Linked DNA regions of Homo sapiens. The protein of the gene in region 1 purifies or fractionates together with the protein of each later gene. This does not show direct contact. Each region holds a gene or a part of one and is shown in the gene's direction. Other genes may lie near its edges.

What was found.
Region 2: the proteins of USP37 (region 1) and ANAPC7 purify together in Homo sapiens (affinity purification with western blotting, with the first as the bait; one study listed by BioGRID). This does not show direct contact.

What each region holds. Positions count from the first base shown.
Region 1 is NC_000002.12:218,495,334-218,498,985, reverse strand, and holds part of USP37 (ubiquitin carboxyl-terminal hydrolase 37), read left to right. Parts: intron 1-828; coding exon 829-960; intron 961-1,128; coding exon 1,129-1,252; intron 1,253-3,035; coding exon 3,036-3,226; intron 3,227-3,652. UniProt on the Homo sapiens protein: Deubiquitinase that plays a role in different processes including cell cycle regulation, DNA replication or DNA damage response.
Region 2 is NC_000012.12:110,393,691-110,397,342, reverse strand, and holds part of ANAPC7 (anaphase-promoting complex subunit 7), read left to right. Parts: intron 1-890; coding exon 891-1,077; intron 1,078-2,122; coding exon 2,123-2,242; intron 2,243-3,652. UniProt on the Homo sapiens protein: Component of the anaphase promoting complex/cyclosome (APC/C), a cell cycle-regulated E3 ubiquitin ligase that controls progression through mitosis and the G1 phase of the cell cycle.

The sequences.
Region 1 (3,652 bases):
TTTTTAAAATATATTTGTACTTAGGAAAAAGATTTGGCAGTACCTAAACACATATATTCTATGACCCAGTAATTCCTTTTCTGAGCATTCATTTTCAGAGAAATGAATAAGTTATATTTAAATGAAAAAATAAATTATAAGTAAGAATGAAAAGCACTTTAGTTAAGCCCCCAGTCATGTTTAGCATTAATTTTGAAAATGTATACTTTTCCATTAGATCAAACTAAGTTATTATTTATTTATTTATTTTATTTATTTTGAGACAGAGTCTCACTCTGTTGCTGAGGCTGGAGTGCAATGGCACAATCTTGGCTCACTGCAACCTCTGCCTCCTGGGTTCAAGCGATTCTCGTGCCTCAGCCTGCAAGTAGCTGCGATTACAGGCGCATACCACCATGCCTGGCTAATTTTTGTGTTTTTAGTAGAGACAGTGTTCCACTATATTGGCCAGGCTGGTCTCAAACTACTGACCTCAAGTGATCTGCCTGCCTCGGCCTCCCAAAGTGCTTGGATTACAGGCATGAGCCACTGCGCCTGGCCTATTATTATAATGTCATAATGCAGTAGTTCTCAAAGTAGAGTCCCCAGACCAGCAGCATCAACGTGATCTAGTAACTTGTTAGAAATGGACATTTTTGTGCCTTCTTTTTTTGGACACATTTGTGTCCAAACCTACTGAATCAGAAACCTTGGGGTTAGGGTGTAGTAATATGTAGTTTAACAAGCCCTCCAGGTGATTCTGAAACATAAAGTGGAGAACTCCTACTATACTGAACATACTTTAGGAATTCCTGTTGCCTTCTAAAGCACTATTTCTTTAATTTTCAGCTTCTCCAATTTGGGAAATACCTGCTATATGAATGCTATTCTACAATCTCTATTTTCACTCCAGTCATTTGCAAATGACTTGCTTAAACAAGGTATCCCATGGAAGAAAATTCCACTCAATGCACTTATCAGGTAATCATTATGTACTGTACTTACTGAGTAACCTTTTACTTCATTGATTATAGAATAATGGAATTTTAGACACTCAAAAATTTTCTGTGCCATTATTAGTAATTATTCTTTAAAATATCACGCCATGTCATGTAAAACGTGCTAACTTTGTGTTTTTTGTTTTACTAGACGCTTTGCACACTTGCTTGTTAAAAAAGATATCTGTAATTCAGAGACCAAAAAGGATTTACTCAAGAAGGTTAAAAATGCCATTTCAGCTACAGCAGAGAGATTCTCTGGTTATATGCAGAATGTGAGTATTAATTGTTTTAAAACGTTTCAGAGGCCTGACACGGTGGCTCACGTCTGTAATTCCAGCACTTTGGGAGGCCTAGGTGGGCAGGTCACCTGAGGTCACTGAGGTCAGGAGTTTGAGACCAGCCTGGCCAACATGGCGAAACCCTGTGTCTACTAAAAATACAAAAATTAGCCAGGCGTGGTGGCATGCGCCTGTAATCCCAGCTTCTCGGGAGCCTGAGGCAGGAGAATTGCTTGAACCCGGGAGGCAGAGGTTGTAGTGAGCCAAGATCATACCACTGCACTATAGCCTGGGTGACAGAGCAAGACTCCATCTCAAAAAATAAATAAATAAATATTTATAAAAATAAATAAAATAGGCCAGGTGCGGTGGCTCACGCCTATAATCCCAGCACTTTGGGAGGCCACGGTGGGTGGATCATGAGGTCAGGAGTTTGAGACCAGCCTGGCCAACATGGTGAAACCCTGTCTCTACTAAAGATTAAAAAAAATTAGCCGGGCATGGTGGCACATGCCTGTAATCCCAGCTACTCAGGAAGCTGAGGCCGGAGAATCTCTTGAACCTGGGAGGCAGAGGTTGCAGTGAGCTGAGATCGCACCATTGCACTCCAACCTGGGCTACAGGGCAAGACTCTGTCTCAAAAAAATAAAAATAAAACAAATAAATAACGTGTAAGAAATCATGGAAATTGACATGATTTTAGTGTGTTTCTTGATTTTTATTTTAAAACGAGATTTGTGTATGTGTGTTCATTATAGATTGAAAAACCTGAGGAGAGGCTGGGTGCGGTAGCTCATGCCTGTAATCCCAGCACTTTGAGAGGCCGAGGCGGGTGGATCATCTGAGGTCAGGAGTTCCAGACCAGCCTGACTGATGAGGTGAAACCCCATCTCTACTAAAAATACAAAAAAATTAGCCAGGCGTGATGTCGCATGTCTGTAATCCCAGCTACTTGGGAGGCTGATGCAGGATAATCGGTTGAACCCTGGAGGCAGAGGTTGCAGTGAGCCGAGATTGTGCCATTGTACTCCAGCCTGTGTGACAAGAGCGAAAATCTGTCTCAAAGAAAGAAAGAAAGAAAGAAAAACCTAAGGAGCTGTAGTAAGATTAAATGTGACTCTTCAAATATAGATTTGATTTACCAGTGCAAGGACCTGGGCTGTGTTACCTGCGAAAATTACCTCTTTTAACAAAGTGAGGAGTTATTCATTGATTCATGTCAGTGCAACTGATATAATTATTAAGAATATATAATCTGTCATTTGTTTTTATTCACAAAATATGCAGCTCCCCAAATTCTTATAAGAATAAACCTGACATTGTTCACATATGTCATTGACTTTCAAGGGTTTTCACTGTATAAATTATAATGTTAATAAGCTATTATTTTTTGTTTGTTTTGTTTTTTGTTGTTGGTTTTTTTTTCTTTTCTTTTGAGACGGAATCTTGCTCTGTCACCCAAACTGGAATATAATGGTGCGATCTTGGCTCACTGTAACCTCTGCCTCCCAGGTTCAAGAAATTTTTCTGCCTCAGCCTCCCAAGTAGCTGGGATTACAGGGACTGCCACCACACCTGGCTAATTTTTGTATTTTTAATAAAGATGGCATTTCACCATGTTGGCCGGGCTGGTCTCGAACTCCTGACCTCAAGTGATCCGCCTGCCTCAGCCTTCCAGAGTGCTGGAATTACAGGTATGAGGCACAACACCCAGCCTCAGTAAGCTATTGTGACAAGAAATGTTTTTATCTGATTAAGGATATTGTTGTCTTATTAGGATGCTCATGAATTTTTAAGTCAGTGTTTGGACCAGCTGAAAGAAGATATGGAAAAATTAAATAAAACTTGGAAGACTGAACCTGTTTCTGGAGAAGAAAATTCACCAGATATTTCAGCTACCAGAGCATACACTTGCCCTGTTATTACTAATTTGGAGTTTGAGGTTCAGCACTCCATCATTTGTAAAGCGTAAGTAGTGTCTAAGAAATGATTTCCCTTTTTACTTCTTTATGGCAAGTGATTAAAATTCTTCTATGACATACCAAATGCCATGAATTCTTTTCTGTTTTTAAGACAGGGTCTCACACAGTTGCCTAGGCTCTTGGGTGCAGTGGCACAACCCCAGCTTATTGCAGCCTGGATCTCCTGGGATCAAGTGATCCTCCTACCTCAGCCTCCCGAGTAATGAATTTTTATCTCATCTTCCTTTCTACGTCATAGGGGAAATATAAACCAACAGATTATATCAAACCTTTTTTTCAGAGTCTTTTTCTATAGAAATGCTTGGGCTGGGCACAGTGGCTCATGCCTGTAATCCCAACAATTTGGGAGGATGAGGTGGGCAGATGGTTTGAGCCCAGGAGTTCAAGACCAGCCTGGGCAACATGGGGAAAC
Region 2 (3,652 bases), on another chromosome or scaffold:
GATCTTGTGATCTGCCCGCCTCAGCCTCCCAAAGTGGTGGGGTTACAGGCGTGAGCCACCGCGCCTGGCCTTTCTTTAGTATTTGAAGAGCTTTCAGGTTTTTTCAAACTTCTTTTTGTGCATTGGTTTTTTTTTGTTGTTGTTGAGACGGAGTCTGGCTCTGTCGCCCAGGCTGGAGTGCAGTGGCATGATCTCGGCTCACTACAGGCCTCCTGGGTTCATGCCAGTCTCCTGCTTCAGCCTCCCAAGTAGCTGGGACTACAGGCGCCTGCCACCACGCCTGGCTAATTTTTTGTATTTTTTAGTAGAGATGGGGTTTCACCGCGTTAGCCAGGATGGTCTCGATCTCCTGACCTCGAGATCCGCCCCCCTCAGCCTCCCAAAGTGCTGGGATTACAGGCGTAAGCCACCGCACCCAGCCTGTGCAGCCTGTTTTTAAAAAGGATTCAAAGTGGTGAGGTTTCTCTGTACTTCATCTTAATATGAGAATATGGATAGATATATCTCAGACTGTTAAAAGGGCCTGGTGGCCAGGCATGATGGCTCACGCCTGTAATCCCAGCACTTTGGGAGGCCGACGCAGGTAGATCACTTGAGGTCGGGAGTTTGAGACCAGCCTGGCTAACATGGCGAAACCCCATGTCTACTAAAAAAAAAAACAAAAATTAGCTGGGTGTGGTGCCATGTGCCTGTAATCTCAGCTACTCGGGAGGCTGAGGAAGGAGAATCACTTGAACCCGGGAGGTGGAGGTTGCAGTGAGCCGAGATCGTGCCACTGCACTCCAGCCTGGGTGACAGAGTGAGAATCTATTTCAAAAAAAAAAAAGAAGCTGGGGGAGCTTGGATTGAAAGGGAGGAAAAGATGTATTACATTTTCTCTTGTTTTCTAGTGAGTTATTCTCCCCACCTCAGAAGTACCAGCTTTTGGTGTATCATGCAGATTCTCTCTTTCATGATAAGGAATATCGGAATGCTGTGAGTAAGTATACCATGGCTTTACAGCAGAAGAAAGCGCTAAGTAAAACTTCAAAAGTGAGACCTTCAACTGGAAATTCTGCATCTACTCCACAAAGTCAGGTAATTGGAGATAGAATTGTGATTTTTTTTTTTTTTTTTTGAGAAAGACTCCAAGAATTTAGAACAGGGTCCCCAGGCCCCAGTGCCTGGTCTGTTAGGAACCAGGCTGCACAGCAGGAGGTGGGTGGAGGGCTAGTGAATATTACTGCCTGAGCTCCGCCTCCTGTCAGATCAGCTGCGGCATTAGATTCTTATAGGAACACAAACCCTATTGTGAACTACACATGCTAGGATCTAGGTTGTGTGTTCCTTATTATAATCTGACTAATGCCTGAAGATCTGAGGTGGAACAGTTTCATCCTGAAACCACCCCCTCACCCCCCATCTGTGGAAAAATTGTCTTTCATGAAACTGGTCCCCTGGTGCCAAAAAGGTTGGGGACCGCTGATTTAGATGATAGCTGATTAGATGTAGAAGATGAGGCCAGAAGCTGGGCGCAGTGGCTCACGCCTGTAATCCCAGCACTTTGGGAGGCCTAGGCGGGCGGATCACGAGGTCAGGAGATTGAAACCATCCTGGCTAACACGGTGAAACGCCGTCTCTACTAAAAATACAAAAAATTAGCCAGGCATGGTGGTGGATGCCTGTAGTCCCAGCTACTTGGGAGGCTGAGGCAGGAGACACCAGCCTGGGTGACAGAACGAGACTCTGTCTCAAAAAAAAAAAAAGAAGATGAGGCCAGGCACAGTGGCTCACACCTGTAATCCAAGCACTTCCAGAGGCGGAGGTAGGAGGACTTGAGGTCAGGAGTTTGAGACTAGCCTTGGCAACATAGTGAGACCCCTGTCTTTACAAAACGGCATGGTGGCACATACCTGTAGTACTCAGAAGGCCAAGGTGGGAGGATCGCTTGAGACTAGGAGTCTAAGACTGCAGTAAATCATGTTTGCACCACTGCATTGCAGCCTGGGCAACAGAGCGAGACCCTGTCTCAAAAAAAAAAAAAAGAATTGCTGGGTCATATGATAACTCTATGTTTAACGTTTTGAAGAACTGTCATATTGTTGGAATAACGTTTCAAAGAAATATTTCCATTGTCTTTTAGTGTCTTCCATCTGAAATTGAAGTGAAATACAAAATGGCTGAATGTTATACAATGCTAAAACAAGATAAAGATGCCATTGCTATACTTGATGGGATCCCTTCAAGACAAAGAACTCCCAAAGTAAGTTGAATGTTTATGTGTTTTTCTCCTCAGCTCTCCTAACCCTGCTCCCTCTCTCCATGTTTTCTCATGCATTAAGGAGTCCGTGTGAACATTTTACCCATGATTCTAATTCTCATTTTCTTCCTCTTCATGGAGTGGGGGTGGGGGACCCTGAAAATCCAGCTGATGAAAATGATAGCTGGAGAATACTACACATGCTTATTCTTTGTTTTTTCTTTTTTATTTTTTATGTTTAACTTAATTTAATATTTTTTGAGACAGAGTCTCACTGTCACCCAGGCTACAGTACAGTGTTGTGATCCTGGCTCACTGCAGCTTCAACCTCCCAGGCTTAAGCAATCCTCCCACCTCAGCCTCCCAAATAGCTGGGATTACAGTTGCATGCTGCCACACCCAGCTAATTTTTTTTTTTTTTTTTTTTTTTTTTTGAGGTGGAATTTCACTCTTGTTGCCCAGGCTGGAGTGCAATAGCATGGGGGCTCACTGCAAAGTTGCCCAGGCTGGAGTGCAATAGCATGGGGGCTCACTGCAACCTCCATCTCCCAAGTACAAGTGATTCTCCTGCCTCAGCCTCCCGAGTAGCTGGGATTATAGGCGCCTGCCACCACGCCAGGCTAATTTTTTTGTATTTTTAGTAGAGATGGGGTTTTGCCATGTTGGCCAGGCTGGTCTTGAACTCCTGACCTCAGGTGATCCGCCCACCTCGGCCTCCCAAAGTGTTGGGATTACAGGCGGGAGCCACCGCACCTGGCCAATTTTTTTTATTTTTGGTAGAGATAAGGTTCCACTGTGTTGCCCAGGTTGGTCTCAAACTCCTGGGCTCAAACTGTCCTCCCACTTTGGCCTCCCAAAGTGCTGGGATTACAGGTGTGAGATGCCACTCCAAGCCTATTTTTTATTTTTGTTTTGTTTTTTTTGTTTTGAGACAGAGTCTTGCTCTGTTGCCCAGGCTGGAGTGCAGTGGTGCGATCTCGGCTCATTGCAACCACCACCTCCCGGGTTCAAGTGATTCTCCTGCCTCAGCCTCCTGGGTAGCTGGGATTACAGGCACCCGCCACCACGCCCAGCTAATTTTTTTTTTGTATTTTTAGTAGAGATGGTGTTTCACCATGTTGGCCAGGCTGGTCTCGAACTCCTGACTTTGTGATTCGCCTGCCACGGCCTCCCAAAGTGCTAGGATTACAGGCGTGAGCCACCATGTCCGGCTATTTTTTTTTTTTTTTTTTTTTTGAGAGGGAGTTTCGCTCTTGGTGCCCAGGCTGGAGTGCAATGGTGCAATCTCAGCTCACTGCAACCTCTGCCTCCCGGGTTCAAGCAGTTCTCCTGCCTCAGTCTCCCAAATAGCTGGGATTACAGGCATGCGCCACCATGCCCAACTAATTTTGTAATTTTAGTAGAGACTGGGTT